Linked DNA regions of Homo sapiens. The protein of the gene in region 1 binds, or shares a complex with, the protein of each later gene. Each region holds a gene or a part of one and is shown in the gene's direction. Other genes may lie near its edges. The genes, in order: ARHGEF6, DAB2IP, PAK1 and DCP1A.

What was found.
Region 2: ARHGEF6 (region 1) and DAB2IP share a complex: the UniProt entries of both Homo sapiens proteins name them as parts of the cytoplasmic complex.
Region 3: ARHGEF6 (region 1) and PAK1 share a complex: the UniProt entries of both Homo sapiens proteins name them as parts of the cytoplasmic complex.
Region 4: ARHGEF6 (region 1) and DCP1A share a complex: the UniProt entries of both Homo sapiens proteins name them as parts of the cytoplasmic complex.

Annotation. Positions count from the first base shown.
Region 1 is NC_000023.11:136,665,331-136,673,208, reverse strand, and holds the end of ARHGEF6 (rho guanine nucleotide exchange factor 6), read left to right. Parts: intron 1-1,089; coding exon 1,090-1,189; intron 1,190-3,672; coding exon 3,673-3,727; intron 3,728-5,039; coding exon 5,040-5,180; 3' UTR 5,181-7,659; downstream 7,660-7,878. UniProt on the Homo sapiens protein: Acts as a RAC1 guanine nucleotide exchange factor (GEF).
Region 2 is NC_000009.12:121,758,756-121,766,633, forward strand, and holds part of DAB2IP (disabled homolog 2-interacting protein), read left to right. Parts: intron 1-142; coding exon 143-241; intron 242-1,129; coding exon 1,130-1,684; intron 1,685-4,749; coding exon 4,750-4,894; intron 4,895-4,979; coding exon 4,980-5,124; intron 5,125-7,738; coding exon 7,739-7,878. UniProt on the Homo sapiens protein: Functions as a scaffold protein implicated in the regulation of a large spectrum of both general and specialized signaling pathways.
Region 3 is NC_000011.10:77,463,217-77,471,094, reverse strand, and holds part of PAK1 (serine/threonine-protein kinase PAK 1), read left to right. Parts: intron 1-7,878. UniProt on the Homo sapiens protein: Protein kinase involved in intracellular signaling pathways downstream of integrins and receptor-type kinases that plays an important role in cytoskeleton dynamics, in cell adhesion, migration, proliferation, apoptosis, mitosis, and in vesicle-mediated transport processes.
Region 4 is NC_000003.12:53,344,056-53,352,052, reverse strand, and holds the start of DCP1A (mRNA-decapping enzyme 1A), read left to right. Parts: upstream 1-4,509; 5' UTR 4,510-4,535; coding exon 4,536-4,670; intron 4,671-7,110; coding exon 7,111-7,151; intron 7,152-7,997. UniProt on the Homo sapiens protein: Necessary for the degradation of mRNAs, both in normal mRNA turnover and in nonsense-mediated mRNA decay. Removes the 7-methyl guanine cap structure from mRNA molecules, yielding a 5'-phosphorylated mRNA fragment and 7m-GDP.

The DNA of each region.
Region 1 (7,878 bases):
GTGGAGCATTTGCTTATCACCTCCATATATCTTCCCATATACTTTAAATCATCTCTAGATTGCTTATCATACCTCATAAATGTAAATGCTGTGTAAATAGTTGTTATACTGCATTGGGTTTTAAATTTGTATTGTTTTTTGTTTTTTCTGAACATTTTCAATGCACGGTTGGTTGAATCCACAGATGTGAAACATGTGGATATGGGGGGCCACCTGTATTAAGCACCTACAAAGTGCTAGGCCCTGGAGAAGGCAGAGACACATCTTACCTCAAGAAAGGGGAGGTGGTCAAGTGAAGGCAGTGAGTGTGCACACCTCTGAAGGAACTTGGCCTAGAAGAGAGGAAGCCAGTGGCTCAGGGAGACCCAAGATTAAGCACTTGAGCTCTGAGAGGGAGGATCCAGAGTGAGGGAGGTGCAGGAGAGCTGTTTGGTTGGGCCCCCATGCCTGTTCTGTCACCTCTTCTGTCCCAGAGCCTGGAGACATTCTGGGCAGAGGACACCTACATCTTTGCTGATGATGTGATAATCTCCAAACCTCACTCCACCCTTGATGAAAATGGTCTTAGGAGACATACCTACCTTACCCTATAAGACTGTAAAGAGAACAAATGGGGGTGATGATGCTTCTGAGGCCCTTTAAGCACATTGTGTTTCAGTGCAGTGCTACTGTCAACCTTTTACTACAATGACAAAACACTGTAGCATAGGATGTAGTGTGTCCTTCCTTGGAGATTTGCAGGGAAGAGTGATCACTGGTCAGCTCTTTGCTCTGGAGGAGGCAAAACAGGAAAGAATGGAGGTCTTGGTTGTGGACAGGTATTACAGGGGCTCTTTTGCATTATTTTTCTGAATACAAAATGCTTCCCACCTCGGGAAGATTGAATCAGTGTATTTGGCCATTTAGAATTTCTCATGTCAGGAAAATTTAGTCAGCAAATGATGGGTGACTGTCCTCTGGGTGTAATGTAGCAACATGCTATGAACAAAGACCCTTCTGTAACAATAGTGGAAAAGAACTAACACCCACTATTTCTACTCTTCACTAGTAACTCTCCCTCCTCCCCCATCTTGCAACCCTTGTTTGTAGGTACTCGAAAAGATTCCATTCCACAAGTCCTACTCCCTGAGGAAGAGAAACTCATCATTGAAGAAACCAGAAGCAACGGCCAGACCATCATGGAAGAAAAGTGAGTAGAGCAGGCAAAACCTTGCCTAGTTTCTCTTGGGGCTGGCAAGAAGGTCTGGTAGGACGGGGAGCTCCTGGAGAGTCTATGATGAGGGACAACTCCTCCTTACCTGGGAATGCGGCCTGCTTTGCTGTGCATGCATTTGGGAGACTTTAGAGGGCTGCCCACTAACAAATGGAAAGAGGAAGGAAAAGCAGCGGTGACAGAGCCCTCCAAGGCAGCTCCAGCTGGCAGCTGCCCCTGCAGCCAGCTCCCCATCCAGTAAGCTGCTTCTGAGCACATGGGAATATCAATGCCCTGGATGGGTTTAGGAAGTGGCTGGGAATTCCAGCCACAGAACCAATTTCCTTGCCCGGAGAGATGCCACTCACATGTTTTGAGTCAGAAGCTGTGCTTTCACATTTTTGACATCATTTAAAATCCTACAGCAATCCGGTTAGATAAACATTACTCTCACCACTTTCACAGATAAAGAAACTGAGGTACAGGAAGTTCAGGGAAATTATGTCTCTGACTTACCTTTACACAGTAGTGTGGGTGACCTAATGGGGGAAAATCAGGTTAAGTACCTTCTGGCTCATAAAATTAACACAAAGTAGCCAAATAATTCATTTGTCTAAACTTGAGTCATTTCTGAAGTCAGGCCTAAATTTGCATAGGACAGCATATTTCAAGGTGCTTGGCATTGTCAATGCATTTTACATCTGATGTGTGAAGTGATACAGCAAAATGGTTAAGTACTTGGGCTCAAGCAAAAAACAGTGTGGTTCAACTCCCACTTCTGCTACTCATTAGCTGTGTGACCTGGGGCAAGTTGCTTCACCTCTCTGTGCCTCAGTTTCCTCATCTGTAAAATAAGGATGACGGTAATGCTTTCAGAGTTGTTGTGAGGTTAAGTGAAATAAGTATAAAGGCTAGCTCAATAAATAATGTTAGTTAATTCTTATTATAACGATATTCATTTTTACAACTTTGTGAGGTTTTCAGAAAATGTGCTATTATCCCCATTTTACATGTAAAGAAACTAAGACCAAGAGAGGATGAGAAGGAAACTGGTTCCCAGAGAACAGAGGACTAGTAAGTGGCAGGATCAGAACCAAAACTTAGATCTCCAAAATCTTTGTCCAGGGAGAGACCCAGAGAGGAAAAGGCTGTTCTGCAACCCAGTAATTACCAAAAAATTACTTTTTTGGGTACTGTATGGTTGAGATATTCCAGAAAGAATGCCTCTGACTTTGTGTCATGTGCAGTCAGAGAACTGGGAAGGGCAATGTCATAGCACAGATACTGTAGACTAGGCAATCTTGTGATACCTCTCATTATATGATAGGTGATGTTCATTCCTGCCCCAAAGCTAGAGAAATCAAAACCTTATGACGGGAATTGAAAACGTCGAACTCCTAAAAACAGAGAGCAGAATGGTAGTTTCTAGGGACTGAGGGGAAAGGGGAAATGGGGAGATGTTGGTCAAAGGGTACCAAATCTCAGGTATGCAGGATGAATAAGTTCTGGAGAACTAATGTACAGCATGTTGACTACAGTTGGCCCTCTGCATGCGTGGGCTCTGCATCTGTGGATTCAACCAACCCCAGATCAAAAAGATATTCAGAAAAAAATGGATGGTTGCATCTGTATTGAACATGTACAGATTTTTTTCATACCTAGTAAAGTTTTTCTTTTTCCGCCTTTGTTGAGGGATAATTGACAAAGGTGTACAATGTGATGTCTTGATATATGTATGCACTGTTATACCATATTGTTTTTTCCTAAGAAATATGGTATAACAAATATTTGCATAGCATTTACATTGTATTAGGTATGATAAGTAATCTAGATATGATTTAAAGTGTATGGGAAGATGTGCATTGGTTATATGCAAATACTATGCCATTTTATGTTAAGGACTTGAGCATCTGTGGATTTTGGTATCCATGGGGGTCCTTGAACCAATACCCCATGGATACCGAGGGAGGGAAGACTGCATAGTTTACAATGGAGTATACTTGAAGTTTGCTAAGAGTGTAGATTTCCACCACACACATACAAAAGGTAACTATGTGAGGAGATGGATATGTTAATTAGCTTGATTATGGTAACCACTTCACAATGTATACATATATCAAGACATCACATTGTACAGCTTTGTCAATTATCCCTCAACAAAGCTAGAAAAAGAAAAACTTAGTGACGGGCCCTAGTCTCTTGTGTTTTGTTCACCCAAGCTGGGAAGTGAGTAGAAAAGGAGGAGGGAAGTATAGAAAAGGTGTAATGACATTGCATTTAGCTAAGCATGTGTGGTGGTGGTTGTTCTTCCATCAAAGTCAAGAAGATGGAAACCATTTAGAGCAGTACCATTCCCAATCAGCTAGAAAGTCCACTGTTTTTCAGGATCTGTATTTTTATAAAGTGGCTTTTATTGTTAAGTATTTTAACAGTACCTCAGTGCAAGCCATTTGTCTCTGAATTTTATCTTTATTTTCTAGGAGCCTTGTTGATACTGTTTACGCCTTGAAGGACGAGGTCAGAGAACTGAAGCAGGTAATAAAATATAAAATCATTTTCTCGGGTAATAGAACCATTCTCTTTTTCTTGCCTCACGCTGCTCATGCTTTCAGGGAAGGCCTAGGAGCAAGGTAGCGAGGGGGGATTTTTGTTTTCCTTGTGTCATCAAGGTAGGTTTTGTTGATTTTATCATGTAAGCCTTGAATTTAAATTTCCGAGGCTTGCTTGTATTTCTATGTAGTAGTTCACAATAGAGTCCCAAAGTTAGTTACAACTTTCCTGTTCTCTGACATCCATAAACAGACTTTAAGAAAAGACTAGTCATTCATGAGTGTGTAAGTGTAAAGAGAACCATTCATCATGGTTTGTGGGCTTTTCTGCCGATGTGGCCTAGTGCTCCGTGATGCACACTGTGCCTTGTGTGTGAGGACTGACTGTATCTGGTGACAGAGTGAAGGATGGATGCGAGGGGAGAGAGACCAGGGACTAGAAGACCACTTAGGAGGTTCTTACAAAACTCAGGGTGAAACCTGTCAGAGTCCTGAACTGAGGCAGGGTAATGAGGCTGGGGAGGAGGAAACGAATGTAAAGGATGGCATACTGCAGAGTTTGAACCTATGGACGAGGATAATATGATTTTGAGATTAAGAAAGAGCCAGGGATTAAAGATGAAGCTTCTTCCCAGGGTGTCTGGTTGCATATGGTGGTGCCCCTTCATGGAGATCAGTAATCACAGGAGGAGGAGAAGTTTGGGGTGTTGAGAGAGATACTGAGTTCACTTTAGGACCTGATGAGTTTAAGGTGCTTGTGACATATCTAGGTGGAAATACCAAGCTGCTGCCAGGTAATCTCAGGTAAGTGAGAGGATCACTTAAGCCCGGGAGTTTGAGGCTGCAGTGAGCCATGATTACACTGCACTCCAGCCTGGCAATAGAGTGAGACCCCATCTCTTAAATAAAATAATAATAATAATAATAATAATAAGAAGAAGAAGAAGAAGAAGAAATACCAGGCTGACAGTTGAGATTGTGGACCCGATTCTCAGGAGACAAGGTCAGTACCAGAGATATTTGGGAGTCCCCTTAATAGACACTTGGGTTGAAACAGAAGTGACACTAAGTGAAAAGCAAGTTAAATTAGAAGAGGATCAGGGCAGGGAAGAAGAATCCAAAAGGTTTCCCAGAGACAGGCAGGAGAATCGACAGGCTGCTTTGTCATAGATGCTGAGGGAGGGAAGGTCGAGGAAAGAAAGAGAGTCAGTGATGAAAGCTGCCCCGAGGATGAGCAGGAGGAGCCCTTGGAAGGGCCCCCCTCTGTTTGATAATCAACAAATCTTTCCCCATCATAGGAAAATAAAAGAATGAAGCAATGCCTGGAAGAAGAACTGAAATCAAGAAGGGACCTAGAAAAGCTGGTGCGGAGGCTTTTGAAGCAAACAGATGAGTGTATTCGAGGCGAGTCCAGTAGCAAGACCTCAATTCTTCCATAACCATCACTGTGCCACTGGGTGGAGTGTGCCTTCAGGGCATCTTGAAATGTCCCGCTGAATGATTTGACTCAGTTTGCTCACTTCTTTGGCTTTTGTTTTGTGTTTGAGTCTCTCTCTCTCTCTCCCTCTCTCTTCTCTTTCTCTCCCCGCTGTGTGCATATGTGTGTGCGTGCACGTGCGCGCTTGGGCATTTGCTGTTGTTTGGTTATTGGTTGGTTGTTCATTTTTTTTTTCAACAGGTGAAAAAGCAGGAAGTGGTGGTAGAGATGGCCTCAGAGTCTTTTCCATTCAGTAAGAAAGAGAAAGGGAATGCAGGCCAGTTACTTAAAAGGTCTTCAGATTGCCTTCAGTTCACAGTGCCTCTGCAACAGCCATTGCCCTCAGGTCACATTCTTTGGGCTGGCTGCCCTTGCAAAGCAGCTGGCCAAGGCTTATTAAATGTGAACCCAACTTTTCCCCAGGGCTTTCCTGTACCTGCAAGCCTCTTAGTACTTAATTTACCGAAGGCAAATCTTCCAGACTATGGCTTGAGTAGGATGAAAGACAAACACATCTGCCCAATGATCCAGCTGCCCTTCCTTAGACCATCACATGCCTCCCCTCAATCACAGGTTTTAAAATTACTGCCCTATGTTGTCTATAAGACCAAGAAAACTGTAGTACCCTTATTCCTTTTGTGTCATGTAAATTGTAACTCAGGGGGGCAGAAGCTCTGGTCACCCACACCAACACCAAATCCATCAGCAAATTCTACTGGACAATCCTCCCTTTTAGTAGCAGAGTTGACCGCCTTTTCCCATTGCATGATAGGTTTCTTTCCCTCATTCTGCCTAGTGTGTAAGTTTTCTATTTCCCCAGTACTTTTAGCCAACCTTACCAAGTGGTGTGTAAACTAGTATGTATGTGCTTTGCTTACTTTTTAAAAAAATGTAGTTAGACTGTGAGGAGTTACTTTATGTACGTTGCATATTCAAACTGTGATGTTTTATCCTTCAAAACAATCTGCATTAAGAAGATATTGTGCCCTACTAGACAGCTTTCATTCACTTTATTACTCTCTCATATATGCTGTGAGAAGTTGTAATATTAATTGGCCTCTTTGGGTGGGACTCTAAGCAGTATTTGCAGAAATATGCTTCTGGTCCAACTTGTACATCCAGAACAAAAGGGCCCCTCTAGTAGCTGTGTGCTGGATTATTCAGGACTGATTAACTCAAGTTGCTCATTGAATCACATCATCCACTTTATCCCAGAAACTAGAACTGTGAGAAACCAGGTTTAGAAGACAGTCACAGAACAGCACACATCCAAATTCAGCGCCATTGAAAGTTGGCCTAAGGCTCAGTGCCACTCACCCCTCCCTCCCCAAAAGACAAGAGAAATTTGGCCAGATGGGGAAGGTCACTGGAAATTGAGGCCAAAGGGCTGATCAGAATTGCCTTTATAATATATTTGATGGATGCCTATAAATGTGGGTTTTGCAAATATTGTTTAAAAACCAAACTTGAAGCCAGGCATGGTGGCCCACACCTGTGGTCCCAGCTACTCAGGAGGCTGAGGTGGGAGGATCATTTGAGCCCAGGAGGTCAAGGCTGCAGTGAGCTGTGATGACACCACTGCACTCCAACCTAGGTAACAGAGAGACACCTCTGTCTCTGAAAAAACAAAACTTGAAGTTTGAAACCCCCAGCTTGCTGAGGAGCCCTTTTTATTTTTGGTACTGAGAGTCTCAAGGTCCCATAGCTACATGGTACAGGGCTGTTGTCTGCTTGCTGCACAGCAGAAATTACACCATCCACAGGAAATGGACTATTTTTGCAGTCCAACATCAGCCAACCACACACAGCCGTGTTTGGAAGCTGAAGAGTAAAGAAATTTCTAGGAATGGCTGTTGTTCTGTTTTTTAGCACAGCCATTTAGATATAACATCCTTCACTTAAAAATTAAAAACATCAGTACTACCACCACCACCAACAACATCAACACAGATCTTCACATCTGCCCATTCTGTGGTTAGTCAATGGCTTGCAATAAATGTGCAAACTGCATCTATAGGAAACATTTTTGTGATTACGGAATACTTTAGTTGATTGCTGAAAATATTGAAAGGTCTTCATTTTACAGTGATGAGTACATATGCATGTTTCGGGGACTTGGCCCTTCTGATGAGGGGCCCTCGGTACTCTGGATAACGAAGCTTGTGCAGAGTGGTAACCATGCTTACACACTAAACTATAATATAAAGGAAATGAAGCCATGTTAATCTGAGAGCAGTGTCGCCATAGTTGTGTTGTTTACAATACTCTATAAATGGGTTCCTGTTGCCCTGTAATTAAACTGCTGCCCGTAGAGGCCTTTCAGTTCCTTTTCTGTCCTTCCCCTTCTTAACACAAGCTCAAATTTTCTAACTTGTTTTTATTTTGAAGACTTTTAAAATGGACATTTTCAATACATAAAAATAAACAGTGCTTTATAAAAATAAGTCTTTTGCTTCTTTTTTTGCTAGCCGGTGTGCAGAAAGATTTCTTGTGCTGTGTCAGCTTCCTCTCCCATTTCCCTCATTAGCTAGTCTGCTCTCACCAAGCCCTCTAGCCAGTCTCAACCTTTTTCACTCAGGGCAGATGACATTTGCTCCCAACTTTACAGAGATAATACATGCCCTGAGACAGAACCTTCCTTAACTTCTCTACCTCTCTTC
Region 2 (7,878 bases), on another chromosome or scaffold:
GAGCCTTGTCCTGGCTCCTTCCTGAAGCTGTGATGCAGACCTGATGGCCAGAGTCCCCTGAGCCTCCAAGGTCTTCTTCCATCACTGCCTGCCCTTGCTGTGGTCCCTTCCCTCATAACACTGTCTTGCCTGCTCCCCACAGGTGACGACGTCATCAGGAAGCAAGTGCTTTTCCTGCCGGTCTGCAGCTGAGCGGGATAAGTGGATGGAGAACCTCCGGCGAGCGGTGCATCCCAACAAGGTAAGCCTGCGCCCCTCTCACCAAAGCATGGGGGATTGAAGGTAGGCTCAGATAGGAGGAAACAAGAGAGACTATCTCTGTGGTGTGGGCTGGGATTGGGGGTGGTCAGCCTGCATGGAGGCAGGGCCCGAGTGGACAATATTGGTGGACTCTGAAAGAGACGTTTGAGTTGACCAGGTTGAGACAGGTGCTGTGTGCCTCTGTTTTCTAAGCTACACATTGAGGCTGGGCTTGGGGAAATGAGTGCTGGACCCTGGGGTCCTTCTGCTGGGACCCCTTGTCCCTACTCCCCAGCCCCTGGCTGAGTTCTGCTCATCTTCCCCTTCCACCTTAGATGTCTGCCCCTCCTCCAGGTGAGGACCCCTGTCCCAGGCTGGTGCCCTCTGTGTTCCCACTGCCCCTGGGCTCCCCCATTAGGTCCTGGGAGCCCCCACTGTAATCCCTGCTTCTGTATCTGTCTCCCTAGCCGACTTGAGGGCTTGACCAAGTCCTGGTCACCATAGCCATCTCTTAAGTTACAGTACAGACCAGCATATTAAGGAAGAGTTAATAATGGCATAGCCTGTGACGTGTCAGGCGTTGTGCTGGCCTCTCTCAGTCTCGCCCTCTATGAGATGGGGGTTTTACCTTAGTGCCGTTTCATAGACAAGCAACCCAAGGCTCCAGTTAAGTTGCTTGCCCAAGGTGAGTGAGCTTCTGTGAGGTCGACCAGAGATCCAGCCCTTGTCCATCATGCCCTGCCTCATCCTGACTTAGGGCCTAGGCGCCCGCTGCCGCCTCCACCTTCAGAGCTCCTCCTGGGTCTGAGGACTCTCTCAGGCTCTGGGCTGGTTGGGGGTTGCACGTGGCACCCCCAGCTGACCACCCTGGACCCCCGTGCACATACAGGACAACAGCCGGCGTGTGGAGCACATCCTGAAGCTGTGGGTGATCGAGGCCAAGGACCTGCCAGCCAAGAAGAAGTACCTGTGCGAGCTGTGCCTGGACGATGTGCTCTATGCCCGCACCACGGGCAAGCTCAAGACGGACAATGTTTTCTGGGGCGAGCACTTCGAGTTCCACAACTTGCCGCCTCTGCGCACGGTCACTGTCCACCTGTACCGGGAGACCGACAAGAAGAAGAAGAAGGAGCGCAACAGTTACCTGGGCCTGGTGAGCCTACCTGCTGCCTCGGTGGCCGGGCGGCAGTTCGTGGAGAAGTGGTACCCGGTGGTGACGCCCAACCCCAAGGGCGGCAAGGGCCCTGGACCCATGATCCGCATCAAGGCGCGCTACCAAACCATCACCATCCTGCCCATGGAGATGTACAAAGAGTTCGCTGAGCACATCACCAACCACTACCTGGGGCTGTGTGCAGCCCTCGAGCCCATCCTCAGTGCCAAGACCAAGGAGGAGATGGCATCTGCCCTGGTGCACATCCTGCAGAGCACGGGCAAGGTGAAGGTGCGTGCAGGCCCCTCGGCTCCTGACACAGGCTGGGCGGCAGCACTGGGTTACCTGCCCTTCCTCACATCCGTACATTTCAGGCCTAACAGAGGCCTTGGAGGCACCGGTCACTACCAGAAGGGCTCCCTAAACCCAAAAGTTCTATCGTGGGCTGGGGGTTTTGTACTCCTGCTCTGTGGCTGGAGCTGATCACTGAGGCCTGTGTGGAGCCAGTGGATGGGATTGCAGCTGGTAGTGAGGGAGTGGGCTTGGGTTGAGGTGCCTTCCACCACTGCTGCAGAGGACCGACCCCCTGAGGCGCCAGGGGAACAGGCTGGGTGGCCACGGCTCTCCCAGCACACAGGTCCCACAACGCCACCAGCCGCAGTGAGCCAAACACACGTCCCCTGTGGGGTATGGAGTTCGGCAGACCTCCCCAGCACGATGCACAGATGAGCCTCCCTCACAGCTCTACCTCACCCCACACTCTCACCCAGACACACAGATTGTCACACAGGTAGACACAGTCAAAATTGTACTATTCGAGGGTTAGCCAGCCCCACCCCAGAGCCTCACAGAAGCGGGAATCGTCTGAGACCCACCCAGGCAAGTCCTAGTTCAGGGCCAGAGGTGCTCAATGTCCATCTCCATGACCCCTTTCACCTTCCGCTCCCGAAGATGGGCCCAGCAGCCCACCATGCAAGCCGTGCCTCAGCCCCACCTACCCGGTTTGGGGACAAATGGGCTCCTGGACCAGGGTGCCCCTAGGAAGGCAGTAGAGCATGGTCTGTGGGCCTCGAAGGCGACCTTCTCTCTTTACATTTGCCACCTGCCATTCAGGAAGCTGGCCAAAGAGGGTGGGAAAAAGGGGCTGGACTTGAGGCCTCTGCAGCGTGGATGGACCCTGGTGCTGGGCTAAGGACTGGGCCTCTGCCCTCTGGACAGTGGCGTGTTGTGAGCCAAGTGGCAGGTGGCTGAGGGGCACCCTGTGTCAAGGTCCTAGGCCCTTAGCTCTGGGTCGGGGAGGCACAGTTGGGAGCCATACCCCAGGGCAGAGTCCAGGGCACAAGACTCGTGGAGGTCCCTCACCCTCTCACCTGTTCCTAGAGGCCCTGGAAGGGGAGGCCATGGCTGGAAGCCTCAGCAGCCTCTGCAGCCCCCCTCCCTCTTGCACTTGCTGTATGCTGCAAGTGCAGGGCTGGGGCGGGGACCTCCTCCCCATGGACCCGCGATGGGGAGCAGTTTTCCTCTGTAGTGCTCAGCTACCTCCTCCCTCACCTTCTCCCCCAGCCTTCAGACTTGGCTGGCTAGGCTGCACGTTGGGCCAGCTCTGGCTGCCCCGTCCTTAACATGCTGGTCAACACTGGGGACGTATGCTGGGAAACGGAATGAATCAAGGACCCATGGGCACCAGAGAGGGAGTGATGGGGGCTGCAGAGGCTGCATTATTTTCTGCAGTTGTGTCTGATGTTTCAGTACCTGGTTCCCAGGGCTGGGCTGGGGCTGGCCTGGGAAGCGGATTCCTCCCTGAAGCAGCCTGAAATGATAGGTATGTCCAGGTGCTCGTGGAGGGAGGTGAAGTCAGGGCTGCAGCCAACCCCAAAGGCCCTCAGTGGGATTGGGGAGCAGTAGATAGAAGCATAGAAAGTAACTTGTGCTGCTGGGGTGACAGGTACCTAAGCCCCCACCCCTGGAATACTTGGGAACTAGCCCCTCTTCCGTCTCCACGGCTAGAGGAGTAACGGAGTCTGGGAAGCAAGGGACTTGGACCAGATCTGGCCCCAGGTGGCTGTGTGGCCTTGGACAAGTCATTTTCCTGCTGTGTGTGCATTGGTTTCCCCCTTATTGGGTCCTGGCTCTCAGGAAGTTCTCATCCCAGCACTGGGGCCTGGCTCTCATTGCGGGAGTTCAGGAAGGCTGCAGTCCTGAGCGGGAGCCCTGGAGGAGCCCCGGGGGAGATGCACCTCTGACCCCCGCTTTAGTGTATTCAGAGAATGAGACCCTGGAGGTCGCCTGCTGGTCAGGAAGGGGTCCTCAGGCCACATGATCCCCAGGAAGCCAATGACAGCTTCCCCTTTGCCCCTGCTGTCCCTCTGTGCCTCTGCTGTGCACCCTGGGTTCCTGTGTCTAGATCTCAGTTCTGTTTTAAAGGACCCCAAGGTCGTGCATGTCGGAGTGAGGAATTTCTTGAGCACAGATGCCTGGGTCCACCCCTCCTGGGCACCTTGCAGGCTCTGTGCTAGGTGGCCCCCTGCCCTGACTGTCACCCTCCCTTGAAACTATGACAGTTTTTCCTATTTTCTTCCCCTCCCCCAAGCCACAGGTTAGTTGTGAGCACAAGGAGGTGGGGGCTTCTGAGGGAGGGTGTTAGTATCTGCATGGTTGCTAGAGTAGGGGGAAGGTGTGGGTTCGGGCTCCTGTGCTGGGGTTTTCCCACAACACTGTGTGTGGGACCTGATGGGCCTGGGGCTGCTACCCTGGATTGCCAGGTGGGCAGTGGCGCCTCCACCTTCCCTCTCCAGCCAGTTGCACATCACTTCCTGCTCTCACCTGCCTGAGCATGGTGGCTCACGACCTCCCCGGGCAGTGGGGCTGCACAGAAGGCATCTGTGTCTGGTGTGGGAGCCCCCACCAGAGTCATAGGTGGATACTGATGGCCATTCTTACCATGAGACAGGGCAGCCTCATTTGTCCTCTTTGGCACTGATGGTGCGGGGAGAGGCGAGTCCTGCTGTGGTCACCAGGCCAGGCCTGATCAGGGCTGTACATGGAAATGAGTCCATTCTCTGTGGTGGTGGGGGCTTGTGGCTCCACGTGGCATGCTCTCATTCAGGCTGCCTCCATCCATAGACCCGGCTCTACTGTCACCAGTTCTAGGCTCCTACCCTGGCTGGGGGCCCCTGCCCTGCCCACACTCCCCAGCAGCCCCCAAAGGTGGGCACACTGTTCCTCTCCGGGACCCCCGCAGCTTGGTGATGGAACAGCCTCAAAATGCCAGGACTTCTCTGGCTAGGTCTGGAATCCTAGGGCCCTCCATGCCAGGCCAGCTCAGGTCCTGCTCTCTCCACCTCCTGCCTCCCCAGGACTTCCTGACAGACCTGATGATGTCAGAGGTGGACCGCTGCGGGGACAACGAGCACCTCATCTTCCGGGAGAACACACTGGCCACCAAGGCCATTGAGGAGTACCTCAAGCTAGTGGGCCAGAAGTACCTGCAGGACGCCCTAGGTAGGGAGTGGGCCAGCAGCAGGGCAGAGGGTGGGGCAGGGCCCGCCAGGTCCTCACTCCCCACTCCCTGCCCACTTGTCCATAGGTGAGTTCATCAAAGCGCTGTATGAGTCAGATGAGAACTGCGAAGTGGATCCCAGCAAGTGCTCGGCCGCTGACCTCCCAGAGCACCAGGGCAACCTCAAGATGTGCTGCGAGCTGGCCTTCTGCAAGATCATCAACTCCTACTGGTCAGTGCGGTGCCCAGGTCTCCCCACCCTGTCGCCTTCCCCATCCTGTCCTTCAGTGTCTGGCACCCGCAGTGTGCCTGATGCTGCCTGGCCCCTGAGTTGTACTGACTTGCCAGTCCCCTGGCCTAGTCCCTTTTGAGCTCTCAGGTGGGGCAGCGTTCAGCATGTTGCTGTGGTTTTGTGATGGAAAGAACCTGGACACGCCAGTCTGCCGTCTCTGGTGATGAGGGAGCGCCCTTCATGTGCCGGGGGCTATTGTGGGTGCTTGGGCTGCAGCGGGAGTGAGACTGGCAGGCCCTGTGTGGGCCCCCACTTGGGGTGGGCGGATGGCTTCACCTGAGGCTCCTCACCTGTCCGTGGGAGCTAAGGTGCTCATGTCACAGCCTTGTGATGGGGCCAAGCAGGGGCACGTTGGGGGCCTGAGCACCAGGCAGGCCTCTTGCTGGGACTAGAGAATAAACAGAAAGGACTAGACTTTGAAGTAGAACGGGGTCTGCAGACTCTGCCAGCCCCAGAAAGCAGCAGGGCATGCAGCAGTGGGCTGCTTAGACAGGCCCCTCAGCAGGACCGGAATCAGTCCCGGAGAAACTTGCGGTAAGGCCGACTTCACGGCCACCAGCTTGCTCCTGGGATATATGTGTGTGATGGCCAGCCAGCCTGGTGCCGAGTATAGCCTCGTTCTGTGGTGGCACACAGGACTGTGCGGGAGGGCCTTGCTGTCAGCCCAAGCAGTGGGTTCATATTCACCCCAGAGGAGCTGCCCAGGTTTAACCTGTGTCCCCCTCCAGCTCAGGGCTTACAGCCCCCACCCACCCAAGCCTCCGTCCACAGCCTGTTCTGACACCACTCTCTCCCCGGCCTTACCTCACTCCTTGTTAGGTTCATCTCTTTCACTCACCTGCACCTTCCCCTGCATACACTCCTGCCCTTCCTGCTCCGAGGCCACACCTGGTACCCTCTGTCGCAGCCCTGATCCCATCAGGATAGGGTTGTGCCTGTGCCTAAAACATTTCCTGTGAATGCTGGGGCACCCTGGGGGCAGGTGAGCCCACCACCTCAGGACTGGGCACACAGGAAGGCCAGAGAAGTGTTTGCTGCTCCCCAAGGACAAGAAAAGGCAGGGGGAATGGGCAGGCCAGGAGGGTTGGCACCCAGGGCCTTAGCCCCTGGGCTATACAAGGTGCTTGCCTGGGCCAAATGGGCACCTCAAGATGGGCCACAAATGTGCAGCTTTCCACACCCCTGGGCCGGTGGAGGAGAGCGACTGTAGGGCCTTGAACTCTGGGAACACACTTCCCATTCCCAGCTGGGCTGTGCTTTCCCCCTCCCCCTCTTCCAGGGGGGCTGGGCATGTGACTCAGGGAAAACATATTTGTGGACAGTGATTTTCCATTTCCTCTTTCTGGCATTTATCAGAGGCACCTCTCCATTCTGGACAAGGCCATTGATAGATGTCACCACTCAACACCTGCCCCCTGTCCAGTTCTGTGCCAGGCACTGTGAGAGCCACGGCTAAAGGTGGCTCACCTTCATTCCCCGCTAGGTGTGCCCTTGATGGGTCAGCCAGCATGCATTGCAGGAGAGCCTGCTGAGCAGGCTGCTGGGCCTGTGGGGGAAGAAATTTCAAGTTGGTCAAGCCTGTTGTAGCCTTGGGGTTTTAGCCTTACGATGGCTCTGTGAGCTTGGCAGGGCAGGCCTTGCTCTCAGTTTAGGGGAGAGAAAACCCAAGCCTTCCAGGAGGGCTAGGGCCTTGGTCAGATCACCCTGAGCTCATGGCAGAGCCAAGTGTAGACTGAGTTCACGGACCACTGGGGCCTGGCCTGCCCCAGGCTGGGAGATGCATCTTTTAGGGAAAAAAGATAGGAAACCCACTTAAGGGTTGGCCAGGTGGGCCTGACCATGGCAGGCCAGGATGCCCAGTGGAACCAGGAGCCCCATTGTCTAGGGCCAGCTCTGCCGGCTTGCTCCATCACCCTGGGGCAGTCACTACCTCCCTTTCCCTCCCCATGTAGAGAATGGAGAGCTGTGTTGTCCCACCGTGTTCAGGGGTAGTCCCATCTTCTTGATCTTTCTGAGCTTTTAGGAAATCCTGGATTCCTGTGACATTATTCAAGCAAAGGAAATTAGTCTCAAAGCCAGTGATGGGAACCCAAGGAATAGTGGTCTATTCCTGTTTTCCTCACTTCCCCCTAGACCCAGATGCCTGCTGTTTGGGTTGAAAAATGAAGTAGACACTGGCAGAGAGGTGGGGAGGGCCCAGACCAGAAGCTGGAGAGGTGGTTCAGCACTGGCCCTTGGCAGTTAATTCCGGTTAGGACGGAGAGCCAGCTCCTCATGCCTCCTCCCATCCCACCTGCCCGGCCCTTCACTGAGAACCCACTGCCCGATGGGAGCCTGGGTCTCCCTGCTCCTCCTCCTGCCTGGGCACTTGCTCCAGCCACCCTGTATTGACTGCTCTCCCCAGATGGCTGTGTCCTCAGAGCTCAGACAGCGGGGCTGACCTCACGCAGCTGGCGGGGTAGAGCCAAGGTTGGAATGCAGGTTCCTGCTCTGTGCACTCCTGTCCTGGGCCCCTGCCTGACAGCCAAGCCCACCTTTGTCTGTCCCTACACAGTGTCTTCCCACGGGAGTTGAAAGAGGTGTTTGCCTCGTGGAGGCAGGAGTGCAGCAGTCGCGGCCGCCCGGACATCAGTGAGCGGCTCATCAGCGCCTCCCTCTTCCTGCGCTTCCTCTGCCCAGCCATCATGTCGCCCT
Region 3 (7,878 bases), on another chromosome or scaffold:
AGGCACTCAAGTATTTGTTGAATGAATAATGTAAGATGATTTAATTCTATGTATTGCCAGCTGCGACATTGGGGTTTTACTCAAGAACCGTTCTCAGAATGAATAGGAATCATGGTCCAATGTGCAAATCCAAGGGGATCCTAACATTTTTGGGGGATTCATTTTAGGTTGAGCTTTTCCCTTTATGTGTCTCCAACCAAAGCCTGCAAGAATTTTTAGCCTAGTCTTTTGTTCGTTTGTTTGTTTTAACCACCACCTGAAAACTGCTGTTGCAATATTCCAAGCCAGGATTGTTTCTTTTGAATTTGCAAGTTGGTTTTGCAAGTCTAAATAAGCACTCTTAACTTTTGAGTCTTTTAACTTAAAACTGTCTCTTCCTGGTCTCCTGTGGTTTTTGTCTTTCTCTGGTGATACTTAAAGCTATATAGGGCCTGTTTGACTCCACACAAAGGTTTCTCTTCCTTGTCAAGCTCTTAAAATGCTTTGTTTCTTTCACTTTCTTATTAGCCCTAAGATACCATGCCCAGTTTTCTCCTTTCCTAGCTTCCTTCTGGGAGAGTGGCTTCAATTATTCATCCGTTTACTATAAAATTATGAGTCCTTCTCCACCATGTGCCAGACCCTGTGCTGGGCAGGATGTTCAGCTATATACAAGAGTGCAGCCCAAGTCTTTAAGGAGCTAGAGATAATATGACATGATAAGTGCTGAAATGAAGAGATGAAATAGAGGGATGAAAAAAGGTGGTATATGATCATAAAGGGGGGGAGAAAGCTGCCTTTCTATTTGTTTCCCTCAGTTTAGGAATAATTTGTCAAACAAGCATCATTTTGACAGGCAGACTTTTAAAAAATTTTAAGAGGTCATGGGCTTTGTTGGGGAAAACTAAAACAAAAATCAAGGTGGAATCAGCAGTTGCCAATTTGAGACATTAATTCTGTTGTTGCTGGTTTTAATGAATTTTCTGATCCCTCTCCATGTTATTTTTCTAAATAATAACCAGAAAGTGGGAGAAAAATATTTCTTTTTGGCATAGTAAAGAGACAAGTTTAAGGTTATCAAAAGAATACATCTCACTACAGTTTATTGTTTATTTTTGAAAAGCGATAAACAATATGCATCTAAAAACGAGGCTTTTGACTGTTTATGATAAAGAAATGATAAATGTTTGGAGTGATGAATATGCTAATTATCCTGATTTGATTATTACGAATTATATACATCTCAAAATATCATAAATATGTACAATTATTACATATCAACTAAAAATAAAAGGAAAAATGCATTGATTCAAAATTAATAGTCAGTATATTCAAACTTGAAAATAAAAAATTTAAAAACATTCTCCCACACCAGTGTTTGCTCCTTCTGGGTCATTTTCTATGCCCATTATTAAAAAAAAAAAAAAAGTCTCTTCACAGATGTTTTAATTTCTAAGGGGTAATGTTGTAATTTGTAGTGGGTGAAAATGAAACCCTGGAAAAGTTAGGAGACCTTCTTTAGTGTCTATGTTACTGCATGACCTTGTAGAAGTAATTTTTATCTCTGTGTTTTGTCCCAACTGTAAAATGGGGATAGTAATAGTTGCTACGACTAGTTTACAGGATCATGAAGCAATTAAAATAATGACTATAAAGGAATCTTTGAAAAGTATAATTTGCTTGTTAGTTGTTAGGTGGTGGTAAGCTTACTAAAAATGGCTTATGTTACTGAATACCTGTTCTGTACCAGGCCCTATATGAGATGTTTAACATGTTCTTTTTAACCCTCAGAATAACCTTATGAGATGATTGCTGGTATCTCTGTATCATAGGTGAGGAAACCTGAGAGTCATACTAGTAAAGGGAGCTTATTTAAGGTTTTGCTGCAAGTAAGTGGCAGACCAACAATTCTAGTCCATGTGCACCTGACTCCAGCAGCTATGTGCTATTTTCAGTACAGAGGCTGCTTTTAATGTTTCTGCACAGAGGATATAGGAATGTTTTGCAAGTAAATATATTGCAGTGAGAGTTAAAGTTTCCATTTGGTATGTTTTTTTTGTGTGTGTATTAGAAGGCTTGGTGAAGACAGATTTACATTCGTTTACATTTATCATTCATACAGGAAAAATAACATCTTTCCTGGATGTTATTTTGTTCAATCTTCGTAACAGCCCTATGAGATAGGTATTCCCATTTTACGAGTTAGCAGGCTGAGGATCATATTAATAGAAGTCTTGGCTTGCTCAGAGGCACATCATTAATGAATGCCTGAATATTGATTTTAAACCACATTTTAAAATTCTAAGTGTAGTACTTTACTTTGCCACTATAACATATTGCCTTTTAAACTCTATCAAACTAAATTTTGGGGCACTAGACACATTCTTTTAAATTGGTTCCTAATCTCTTTAGCTTCTTCTCCCTAAGAAAACCCTGACTGAAGTCCACAGTTTGAACTAGAAAGGATAATTGCTGATAAAACTCTATGTCAGATGGTCATGATGTTGCAGACTTAGAAGATAATACCTCTTTACTGAAGCTGCCAGATCAGGCTTTATCCAGTATTTGGAATCACTTGTGCCTGAATATTTCCCTGTGCCATCGTAAATTTATTAACTTAATGTGCTACATTTTTCTACCCTTTTTGTAAGCCTTTTCTTTCATGAATATCTTCCTCTTCTCTCCCATTCTTTTAGTTTTTGAGATGGGGAAAGTCATGTATATGCTAGGCTTCTCCGGATTATCCCTTCTTGAGGAATAGTGTAGTAGTAAGTCTAGAAAGAACCAGAGGTTCATTCATCCCTCATGAGTTTTCGTGGTATTGATTGACTGTAGAATTCATCTAATTCTTAAGTCCATTATGTCTTGGCTTTTGTTCCTGGAGTCAGAGTTAGGTAATTTGCATGCAGGATTGGGAAATCCATTCTTGTTTATGGGCTGCTTTCTTTTATTACTTTTCTACTTCCAGCCTTCTCCAATATCCCTTTCCCTTTCAGACTGTTAAGTACTAACTGAGGCTGGCAAGAGCATTTTCTAATTTATAGAATCTGCCTTTTGAATCTTTTGGGATGGCAAATGACAATGACAGTATATGCATGGCTTCCACCCTCATCTGCCTGCCTATATCTTTAAGGTCCAGCTTTCCTTATTTCCTCCTGGATTCCCACAAAGCTAAGATTGATGTCTTCCTCACTGGTGGAACCCTTGATTTGTGTATTACTGCACTTACCAAGGGAGGGTTTAAGGAAGAGCACAAAATTTGAAGTTAGACAAAGAGCTACTTGGACACTTATTTAAATCTCTATTTGTTCATTTGAAAGAAATAATACCTAACTTACAGAATTCTTGTGAAGATTAATAATATATGTAAAAGTGAATTGTAAGATACTGAGCTATATAGATGTTAGGTAGAGTAGTTTGTAATTTTATGACTATGATTGTGTGTAGCAGTGGTTTTAATTTCGGCTATGCACTTGAATTACTTGTGAAGATGTAAAGAGTTGCCTTGGCATCTCTATTTTGAAAGGTTTATAGGTGATTCTGATATGCAAAGTTGAGAAGCACTGCCTTATATTAACAATGTTTTGCATAAATGTCTTATGTAAGTATTATATGAAAAGTAATATTTTATTGCCATTTAAAGTTCATTCATTTGCTAAATACATATTATGCATCAGGCATTGTCATAGGTTCTGAATAAACAGATGAATCATAGCCTCTACCCTTGGGTTTATAGTTTCCGGGAGAAACAGACATGTGCATAGACAATTACACTACATTGAGACAAAAAATGACAAAAATATGGAGATAAGTGCAAGTGCCATGTGAACACAGAGGAAGGGCATCTGCTGCACTTGAAATGGGGGTGGCCTGGCAAGCATTCTTAAAGGAGGTGACATCTAAGATGGGTTCTGAAAAATGATCAGGGGTTAACGAAGCACAGTCAGGGAGGGGTGAGAAGAAAGGGGAGATGATGGACCCTCTTGAAAGAGAGAGCAATATGTGAGCAGAAGATTTGAGAGCCTGTTTGGGGAGCCCTGTGTAGTTTAGTATGCTTAGAAGATAGGGTGTAAAGTGGGGAGGCGTGAGAGCAGAGAGGAGGCAGGGCCCAGATGATGAAGGGCCTTTTGTATAATGTACAAAATACTTTTACTGATATTATCTGACTTTATTCTTTGGACAATCCCCTGGGTTAGCTAGGACAGGTGTTGTTTTATATTCATTTGATAGAAGAAAACACAAAGAGGTTAATTGACTTGCTGAGGCTATACAGCACAGCTAAGATCTGAAGCCAGGTTCTTATGATTGTTTAGTTCATCATGCTTTTTCTATTACACCATAGCCGTCTTAGACTTTTGCGGTGTGGTAGGGAATCAGGTAAGCTCTGTGGATATATGCACAACAATTTGGAAGCTGTAATGTGCTAGACTGATGTTGGCTAACTCATTTTACAGATGAGGAAATTTAGGAGCAGAGACATCAAGCTGTCATTTGAAGACTTTTTTTTTTTTTTGAGATGGAGTCTTGCTCTGTCGCCCAGGCTGGAGTGCAGTGATGCGATGTCGGCTCACCGCAAGCTCTGCCTCCCGGGTTCACGCCATTCCCCTGCCTCAGCCTCCCAAGTAGCTGGGACCACAGGTGCGTGCCACCATGCCCGGCTAATTTTTTGTATTTTTAGTAGAGACAGGGTTTCACCGTGTTAGCCAGGATGGTCTCAATCTCCTGACCTTGTGATCTGCCCGCTTCTGCCTCCCAAAGTGCTGGGATTACAGGCGTGAGCCACCTCGCCCGGCCTTGAAGACATTTTTAAAAATTATTACTGTGTAACCACAGCAAGTCACTTAACCGTCCTGAGACTCAGTTTTCCTTAGCTGTCATATAAATGTGTTGAATTTGATGCCAACTTCTTTGCTTGAATATTTCGACAGTGATTCTTAACCTTCTCACCTACTCCCTGCCCTCACCCTTTCTCTGTGATACACTGGGATGTAGTCCATCAGTAACAGTATTTCACTATGGAAATAGTTCCCAATGGGCTACAGGAACAAAATGTAAATTGCCAGTTTTGGGGATGGGTAAAGAGGGACTTGGTATAGTTGGAGGGGCTCTTGGTTCTCCAATTACCTGTTAGAGAATTACTATTAATATTTTATTTATTTATTTTTTTGAGACAGGGTCTTGCTCTGTCATCCAGGTTGGAGTACAGTAGCTCCATCATAGCTCACTGCAGTGCTGCCCTCCCGGGCTCAAGCAATCGTCTCACTTTAGTCTCCGAGTAGCTGGGACCACAGGGGCATGCTACTAAGCCCAGCTAATTTTTGTATTTTTTGTAGAGACAGGGTTTTGCCGTGTTGCCCAGGCTGGACTCAAGTGAACTGCCCGCCTCAGCCTCCCAACGTGCTGGAATTACAGGCATGAGCCACTTTGCCCGGCCAAGAATTACTATTTTATAACATTCCCTCCCACTTATTTTCTCATATGGAATTATCTCACCAGTCCAGAGTCTGAGATTTTTTTGGTATCCAGGATAGATTTTGCTTAATTTAATAAATTACATATGTAATTTGTAAAGTAACTTAAAAAAAAATAAAGAACCAGGTGAGCAAAATGAGAAAGCCCATTGTGATAGACTTGAAAAGTCCAAGTTTCCTGGACTTTCTAGAGATTATATATAGGATTATATATATAATTTTTGTGCTTTACTGTTTTCAAAACCCTTTTATATAGAGTCTCATTTAACTTAATTCTGTTCTTTAGCCATCATATTTTTATAAATGAACAGAAGTTAAGTGGCATGATTATGTAGCTGGGAAGTTACAAACTGGAATCTTTAATTCATATTTTCTGTCTCCAAATCTGGTCACCTGTTCCTGATCATTTGGGTGCTGCCCTGACCAGTGGCACTTTTTAAAAAATTGTAGGTTCCTAGGAGAATGGTAAAATATATTTATAGTTCCCTCTAACTCTTTCAAAAAATCGTTTTTTTACTATCCATTGCCACTTGCCGGATAATTGACTTAGTTGACTATGTGGTAAAGGTTCCAGGACAGTTAGGAATGGCTGCTGAGTATATTCTTCACACACACACAGACACACACACAGACACACACACACACACACACACACTCTTTCATGTATGTACCAATCCAATACAGCTGGTCCCTGACTTACAGGGGTTCAACTTAATGATTTTTCGACTTTATGATGGTGTAAAAGCAATATGCATTCAGTAGAAACCATACTTGGAATACCCATCCAATCACTTTCAGTGCAGTATTGAATAAATTACATGAGATATTCATCACTTTATTAAAAAATAGACTCTGTGTTAGATGATTTTGCATAACTGTAGGTGAACGTAAGTGTTCTGAGTATGTTTAAGGTTGGGTAGGCTGAGCTACGATGTTTGGTATGTTAGGTGTATTAAATGCATTTTTGACTTAAAGTATTTCAGTGTAAGTTGGGTTTATCAGGTCGTAACCTAATCATAAGTCAAGGAGCATCTGTACAGCTCTATAGTGCTTCTATTTATTCCTTAATTAGACTACACATATTTATTGATTTCTTCCTGTGTGCCAAGCATTGTACTTAGTACTAAGGATACACTCATAAATAATACAGACATGGTCCTTGTCCTTGCTCTTACAAAGATTACATTCCAGAGGGTAATACAGAGAAAAGTAAGTAGATATACAAGTGGACAGTTGCAGATTTTGATAAGTCCTACAAAAGAGATAAAGGACTAATGTAGAGAATTTTGGAGTGATAAGGAAAAGACCTCATTGAGGAAATGATGCTTTTAAACTGAGATGTGCATGATAAATAGATTTTAGTCATGCAGAACACTGAGGGGGAAAAAGCATGTCAGGCAGAGGGAACATTTTAAATGCACAAAGGCCCTGAGAGTAGGTAAAAGTTTAGAGATGTGCTGCTCAATATGGTAGCTACTTAGCCAGTGTGGCTGTTGAGCACACTGACTGATTCACATAGAGATGCACTGTAAGTGTAAATAAAATACATACCAGAGTTTGAAGACAATACTGAAAAAATAATGTAAAATAACTCATTAACTTTTTATATTGGTTATATGTTGAATTGTTAATATTTTGAATATATTGGGTTAAATGTATTTTAAAATTAATTTCACCTCTTTACAAACTTTAAAATATGGCTACTAGAAAATTTGAGATTACATATGTGGCTTTTCTTTAAGGCTAACCGTATCTTTCAGTTGGATAATGCTGGTTTACCTCAACATAGAGGAACTAAAAAAAATTATGGCTGTTGTATAGGAAGCAAGAGTAAATGGTATGAGATGAAGTTGGAGTGGGAGGAAGAGACCTTTCAAAACGCTACCCTGTGTAATATCCTAGTTAATCCGAAGGGACTGAGAGGGGATTATCAAGTCTGATTTTATAGATGGAGACAGTAATTGCCAAAGTCTCTCTTCTCCTCTCTAGAGTGCTAGAATGAGGAGATGAACAAGCACTTTTAGCATAGTATCTTGGGAGTAGAATGCTCTATTTCATTGTTAGCTAAAACAAACAAGTAAATAAATATTGATGAAGAATAAATTGATTAATACAAGTTTCCAAGTGGTCTTGAGACTGCCTCTGGCTATCTGTGGTAGGTGGACCCTCTCAAAGACTGAATTTTTCATAAAAATTTTCCTGTAGGCTGACTCTTCTTGAAACTGTTTCATTTTATACTATATTTCTTTAATTTTATGTACGTTAAAAATTTTTTTTAAATAAAACATTGGCAGGGGAGTATGTGCAGTGAACACCCATATACCCATTATTTAGATTCTGTGGTATTTTGCTGTGTTTTCTTTATCGCATGTCTGTGTATCCCTTGATCCATTCATTAACCTGTCTTATTTTGAAGCATTTCAAAATA
Region 4 (7,997 bases), on another chromosome or scaffold:
CCTGCCTTAGCCTCCCGAGTAGCTGGGACTACAAGCGCCCGCCACCATGCCTGGCTAATTTTTTGTATTTTTAGTAGAGACGGGGTTTCACTGTGTTAGCCAGGATGGTCTCAATCTCCTGACTTTGTGATCCGCGCACCTCAGCCTCCCAAAGTTCTGGGATTATAGGCATGAGCCACCGCACCCGGCCCAGAGTAATTTTCTATTCCAAATATGAAAATTCCCTAAAATAACTTGGTGTTCTTTAATAGGCTAGCCCTGCTCAATCAAAAATAGTAAATTAAAATGAAATGTCTTCGATTATTTTAGGAAATCTATGTAAGAAAAAAAACTAAGTTTCAGGTGTGCCTTTTGAATTTTGTACCAGATGAATGTATGTTTTTTAAACATTAAAGTGCAGATTTTTAAAAATTAGGGTGCGGATTTTTAAAACAGATTGAAGGTAAGTAGAGAGGAATAGGGCTCTTACCTCCAGCCACTGGAAGGAAGAAAGGCATCTGGGGCGTGTAGGAAAGGATCCCAGGGTAGAAGATAGGAGTCCCTAGATTCTAATACTGGATCCTCTGTGACTAGTGTGGAATTTTGAGCCAGTGAATTCTCCCCACAGGTCTCAATTAAATCATCTGTCAAATGAGGGTGACGACATCTTCTCTACCTCACCACTGAGCTGTGAAATGAACCAGAGGCCTTACTTTTTTCCCCTGAACTCCCAGTCATCCCTAGAACACCAATTTGAACATCATCTCCTTCAGGAAGCCCTCCTAGACTTTCCCAGCCAGTTAAGTTAGCGGCTCTGTCCTCTGGATTTCAAAGAGAAATGTCTCTAGCATCATCCCTGTTTCCTTGCACTGTCCTACTTTCTTTTTTCCCTCAGAGCCAGGAATGTCTTAAACAGAGTGAGATGCTCCCAAGGGGCCACCAGCTCACAATTAGGAGTTCAATAAATACTGACTTAAGAGTGAATGAATGATATCTGTGTCTTTGTCCACATTTGTACATGTTTACATGATTCTGCAAAGAATCTAAATTTCTCTTTACATTAACAAACAGGGGGGCTGGGCACGGTGGCTCAAGCCTGTAATCTCAGCATTTTTGTTAACCAGGACAGCCCTGACAAAATAACTGGGAAAGTTCCTTTTTCTTATTGTTTTTCTTTGGTCCCTTTATCTATAGACACTGCTGCTTAAAGAAACCAGATGGCGCCAGAGCTTCTTGACCCCTGACCAGATGCCAGAGGAAGATAAGACACCATAAAACCAGCGCAAATGGGAACTGGCAAACCCTGGGTGCCTTTAGATCATGAACATATCATTATAATGCTAATTTCCCTTCCCTAAAAGAAAATCTCTGCCATTTTGTGTACATATGATATATGAAGATGCATGTTTATGAATTGGGCCTGCGTGTCTGGAGTCCCACCCTGCACATACTAACATTCCTTTCCTGCCCCATAGGAATAAAGGCAATAAACCCCTTGCCTTTTATTCTTCAAGAAAAGATGCTTTCAGAGGAAGAGCTCACCTTCTCCATTCCCTGGCAAATGAATAAAACCTGATTGCCTTTTTCAATGGGATATTCTTTGTTTGTGACTGATACACAGTGGGGAAAAAACTCATTTTATCAGGGACACTTTGGGAGACCCAGGCCAGAGGATTGGTTGAGGCCAGGAGTTTGAGACCAGCCTGGGCAATAGAGCCAGACCCCATTTCTAAAAAAAAAAAAAAAAAAAAAAAAAAAAAGTTTTAATTAGCCAGGTGTGCTGGCACACAATTCAAGTTGTTTCACCTTTCTGGACAGAACCAATATACACCTGAAATGTATTTGATGTCTCATCTCTCCCAAAAATGTATAAAACCAAGCTGTGCCCCAATCACCTTGGGCACATGTTCTCAGGATCTCCTGAGAGCTATGTCAAGGGCTATGGTCACTCATAGTTGGATCAGAATAAATTTCTTCAACTATTTTACAGAGTTTGACTCTTCTCATCAACACAATGACAAAAAACAGTGGTCCTGGGATATAAAATCATAGGCAATACAAATATTTAGTGTTATTTTCTTGAAAATATGGTTTTATCTTACAAAAATTTTCAATTCTGTTGGGGATGTCAATTTTTTTTTCTTTCCAGACGTAGTCTTGCTATGTTGCTCAGGCTGGTCTTGAACTCCTGACCTCAAGTGATCCCCACCTCAGCCTACCAAATAGCTGGGACTACAGTTACATGCCACCATGCCCCCCCCTTTTTTTTTTTGGATGGAATTTCTCCCTCTGTTGCCCAAGCTCTGGAGTGTAGTGGTGCAATCTTGTGTCACTGCAACCTCCGTCTCCTGGGTTCAAGCTATTCTCATGCCTCAGCCTCTTGAGTAGCTGAGATTACAGGCATGTGCCACCACGCCCAGCTAATTTTTGTATTTTTAGTATAGATGGGGTTTCACCATGTTGGCCAGGCTGGTCTCCAACTCCTGACCTCAAGTGGTCCACCTTCCTCGGCCTTCCAGAGTGTTAGGATTACAGGCGTGAGCCCACACATCTAGCTACCATACCCTTTTTTTTTTTTTTTTTTTGAGTCTTGCTCTGTCGCCCAGGCTGGAGTGCAATGGCACCACCTTGGCTCACTGCAACCTCCGCCTCCCGGGTTCAAGTGATTCTCCTGTCTCAGCCTCCCAAGCAGCTGGGACTATAGGCGTGCGCCACCACGCCCGGCTAATTTTTGTATTTTTAGTAGAGACGGGGTTTCACCATATTGTCCAGGCTGGTCTCAAACTCCTGACCTCAGGCGGTCTTCCCACCTTAGCCTCCCAAAGTGCTGGGATTACAGGCATGAGCCACCACGCCCAGCCTCCATGACCTTTTTAACGAAAGAAATGTTGCTTTTTAAGAAGTCTGGCGGGGATAGAACTCCCTATAGTCTCCATGATTTGTTTTACTTGTTAGCTAGTGCCTAACTCTTTCAAACGCTTTAAAATGCTCAACAGACACTTACCAATGAAATGAGTGATCTGCTTAATGCTTTAAATGAAGCAAGACAAATTAAACCCTTCATGGACTCTTCCCAGGGCTGGACAAAAATATTTATGTGGGTCAGACGCAGTGGCTCACGCCTGTAATCCCAGCACTTTGGGAGGCCAAGGAGGGCAGATCACCTGAGGTCAGGAGTTCAAAACCAGCCTGGCCAATGTGGTGAAACCTCGTCACTACTAAAAAAAATACAAAAATTAGCTGGGCGTGGTGGCGGGCGCCCGTAATCCCGGCTACTCTGGAGGCTGACGCAGGAGAATCGCTTGAACCCAGGAGGCAGAAGTTGCAGTGAGCTGAGATCGCGCCACGGCACTCCAGTCTGGGCGACAGAGCGAAACTCCATTTCAAAAAAAAGAAAAAGAAAAAGAAAAAATTAGCCAGGTGTGGTGGCGGGCGCCTGTAATCCCACCTAATTGGGAGGCTGAGGCAGGAGAATCGCTTGAACCCTGGAGGCAGAGGTTGCAGTGAGCTTGAGATTGTGCCACGGCACTCCTGCCTGGGCAAAAGAGCGAGACTCCGTTTCAAAAAGAAAAAAAGAAAAGGGCCGGGCGCGGTGGCTCAAGCCTGTAATCTCAGCACTTTGGGAGGCAGAGGCGGGTGGATCGCCTGAGGTCAGGAGTTCGAGACTAGCCTGGCCAACATGGCGAAACCCCGTCTCTACTATAAACACAAAAATTATCAGGGCATGGTGGCGCGCCCATGTAATCCCAGCTACTGGGGACGCTGAGACAGGAGAATCGCTTGAACCTTGGAGGCGGAGGTTGCAGTGAGTCGAGATCGCGCCACTGCACTTCAGCCTGGGCGACAAGAGTGAAACTCCGTCTCAAAAAAAAAGAAAAAAAATCCACTTGTACCTTCTGCTAATCAGTGTATATATTCAAGGCAACTTGAATCTATGCTCCTGGGGTGCAATCCTCAAGCTTGGCCCAAATAAACTCTCTGCTTGCATTTATTTTGCCCCAGAGTCTTCTTCCTTTTAGGTCGACACATCCATATCTGAGACCTAGGGTAATTTTCTGGGCTTCTCGCCTCTCCCTTTCCCCCATGTTTTTCTGTGCTCTCTAAACGGGCCCGGTAGAGTCCCGCATTTCCACATTCCACAGACATGTTTTCCTTCTGTGGCCCCGGGCCCTGCCAGACAGCGCACCGCGAGGCCGGCACTTCGGCGGTCTCCAACCTTTGCCTGGAAAGAGCTCGGCAGGCGAGCTAGAGGCCAGATCCCAGGACCCAGTCGTTTTAGCTCAGGGAAAGGAAGCGCCGGAGCTCCAGCCTGCAAGCTCCACTACGCAGCCTTGGACACCGCCCACATCGTAGGGCCGCGGACCCTGACAACGCCGGAACCCGGCGCCCGGAGCGTGCGCGCGGCGGACCAGAATGGCTGACGTACCGCCCTGCCGCGAGGCCCGCGTAGAGGCGGAAGTTGAGGGGACTGACGCAGATGGGGGAATTTTGCCTCGATGGCACTTTCCTGTCCGCGACTCCGCCCCCACCAGAGGGGCTAGGCTCTGGGATTCAAGATGGAGGCGCTGAGTCGAGCTGGGCAGGAGATGAGCCTAGCGGCCCTGAAGCAACACGACCCCTATATCACCAGCATCGCAGACCTCACGGGCCAGGTCGCTCTGTACACCTTCTGCCCCAAGGCCAACCAGTGGGTGAGTGCCGCCTGGCCCTGAGGACGGCCACCCGGCCGCTGCCGTCTCTTAAAGGGGCCGCGCGGGTTACTGTGGGGTGGGGGGGCACACTAAGAGGCCAGGGCGGTGGAGACGAGGCCAGGGTCTGGCCAAGAGCCTAGCCAGAGCCTGAGGGGTGTCGGGTCCGCTTGGGATTGGGGGATAGGAGTGAGAGAAGTGGCTCGAGACATCCCAAGGAAAAGCCAGTGGAGGGGAGGATTGGAGCAGGATCAGTCCCTTGGCGTCGGGTCTGGGGACGTGGGCGACCTGCCTTCTTTGCAGATACATTGGGAGTTATAAGACCGGTGGGGTCAAAAGGGTGCCTGAAAGCTTGTGTTTGAGGCTTTGCGGATTATTAGATAAATTATATGTACATTATCTATAAAATAAACACTCCTCCTCTCCCCCTGGCAAACGTAAATGAGAGCCCCTGTCGCAGAGGTCATTTGGGTTTAAAGTTTAAAATCCAATTAGTTTCGATTCTTGGAAGGAGGGGGTGGGTGGGTCCGGCTTTAATCGAACTACACAGAGTTTCGGAAAAGATTCCAAGGCACTTAGGAAAAGGGCTTCCGTGTTCACTGGATCCCCGAAGACCTTTGTACAAACAAGAGAGACCCTGTAAATGTGTTTTGTTCCATCTATGATGCTGGTGATGTCATCTCTGAATGCTCCCCTCGGACTCAGTACTTTCTGGCTTTCGTGCACTGGGGAGGGTCCGAAAAGTCACATTCAGTGTGTTCACTGATTCTTGTTAGCCCCTGCTTGAAGCTTTGTTAGTTGTTTAAAAAGCATAATTTCCCACTTTCTTGTAATTGACCCTTCCTAATTAACTCATTCAGCTACAGGCTTTACACTTAGAAAGTAATACGTAAATGCTTGTTGGATTGAATTCACCAATGACTGGAGTTCACATTTCAATAAGATACGAAATCCTTAAACTGACAGAACTCTGGAAGATGACCGTAGTATGTCGTTTACCCTATAATACAGTTGCATAGATTATATTTATCAGTAATTTATCGAAAATCATTTGGCATTTATGAACAGTTAATTCAGATGAAGAGTTTTTATAATCACGTTGTTTATCTTTGCCTCCTGGAAGAGAAGGAGATATGGGAAGCCACAAGGAATAAAATTGTAGATTGTTTTTTAAATGTAGCTATTTTAGACATTGCCTTAGTTTGAAATTTTATGAATCTTTTTTCTTTTCTTGGCCTATATATAAATTTTGAAATATGGATTGCCGACAAATGGTGAAGACTTGGGGCTAGAGTTTTCCTAGTTTTTCACAAAGGCTTTCAATATTTTAAAATTTTACATTGTGGAGTTCTGTTTTAAATATGAAATACAAGCTATAATAACCTGAATTGAAAAATAAGCTGCTACTGTTTATTTGGATCCTGGCACATAGAGCATGACAAAAATCTTTTCCCTCTTTATTATTTTACAGTGAGTTGTAACTTTGCATGATGTTTTTTGGTGGGCAAATTTTCTTTTACTGTAAGACAGTTGATTACCAGTTTCTTATAGTAATAACCTAACATTTTAAAGGTAAGAAAAAGCCTCTGAATCCTTAGGAAGGAAAATAATGATATTTAAGCTAGGGTAGTACTTCTGGAAGAAATCGAGATGATCAATTTTCTAAATTTTTTAATCCCAACACATTCAATATATGACTAACATTTAAAATGTTAATAATGCGTTGATTACAGTAAAATATTTAGGTCCATTGTAGGCTGTAAATTGCAGACTAATAAGCTTATTTATTTTTTAAAAAACACTGAACTGTGTTTAAAACCTAAATACACTCTTGTCACAGAAAATGAACTATGGTAAAGGCCTCCAATAATTACACTGAGGCAGGGTATACTTTCAGTATTCAAGATTCTTCAAGTTCTAAAAATAACAAGCTGATTTTGTTTGGTAGTAATTCTTAACCACAAAATTTGCTAGTTGTCAAAATGTACGAAAACTCCCTAGTGATGAAACAAAGTATCCTATAAGAAAGTTTCATTCCTTTCCTTTTTTAAAATTAACTTGGATAAACTTAAAAGAGAAGAAATTGCAGTATACAGGACCTTAGCTTTAAAGTTAAGAAATCTGGCTAAAATATTTTAGCTATAAAAAGTGAAGGTTTATTCTATGATTTTCTCCTTTACTAATTAAAAAAGAAAAATACTGCAGATACAGATATGTTGCTGGATTAAATATTGCATATGCTTATGCACTGAAAGGATACATTAGAAATGGTAACCACAATTTGTGGAATGAGAGGGAGACTTTACCTGTTCAAAAGTGGTTAATTTTATAATAGATGAAATGAAACAAGTTGATCTTAAACGTGAAGCATTACTTCTCCATGGGGACTATTTGGGGTCTGATTATGGGGAAAAAAAACTAATTGAGTCATTGTCTTTCATAGGAGAAGACTGATATAGAAGGGACCTTATTCGTATATCGAAGGTAAGTTTTTAAAATATGTATATTTGTTTTTAACAGTCTAGTGGTGAACAATGTGAAACGGTTCAATTCTCTTGTACATTTGTCTTTGGAACCGTCCTGCTAGTACCCTTCAAGTTTTCATCTTTCCCTAGCTGTGAAATCTTAACCAGGTTCTTTCTTTTCTCTGAGCCTTTCTGTGATTCAGAATAAACTGAACTAGAATTTATATTACCAGCCTAGCAAAGCAATTTCAAAATAATAATGATTGAGTCTAAAATGGATGCCTGCGTCTCTCTTCCTACCCCCATATTAGAAAGAAAAAGAAAGATATATATTTGGGGAAAAGACAATACATAGACTGGCTCTGTAAAATAATGTTATTGAGAGGTCGATCCCTCTGTTCTTTCATTACTACATGAGTGGTTGTCTTTTATGACTGGTTCTGTCCTCTTTCCCAACCCACAGAAGTTCTGGATTATGTACAGTGTCTTATTTGAGAGTTCTTTAGAAAGCTTGGATTATTCATGATGGCGTATTTTTTATTTTTGACTTATTCAAAAATTCATTATCTTTAAGATTGGTTTGCAAATTGCAACTTTTTTGTTAGGCAGCTTTTGGGGCCTAAAGACAACTGACAGTATATGATAGTCATGGGGTACTTGTTTTCCTGGATTCCTCTAAGGTCTTAACTCTTACAAGGGCAGGTTCCTTCCCTTGTTTTCTAAAGCTTAGGGAGTCAGCAGGAGTTATTACTGATATCTGGTCTTTTCCCTTTTTTTTTTGTATTGAGTTGCTTCATAAGGATTGCCTTTCTCCATTGATGCCAATTTAAAAGAATTTGTCAAATACTCTTCTAAATTTTGATAC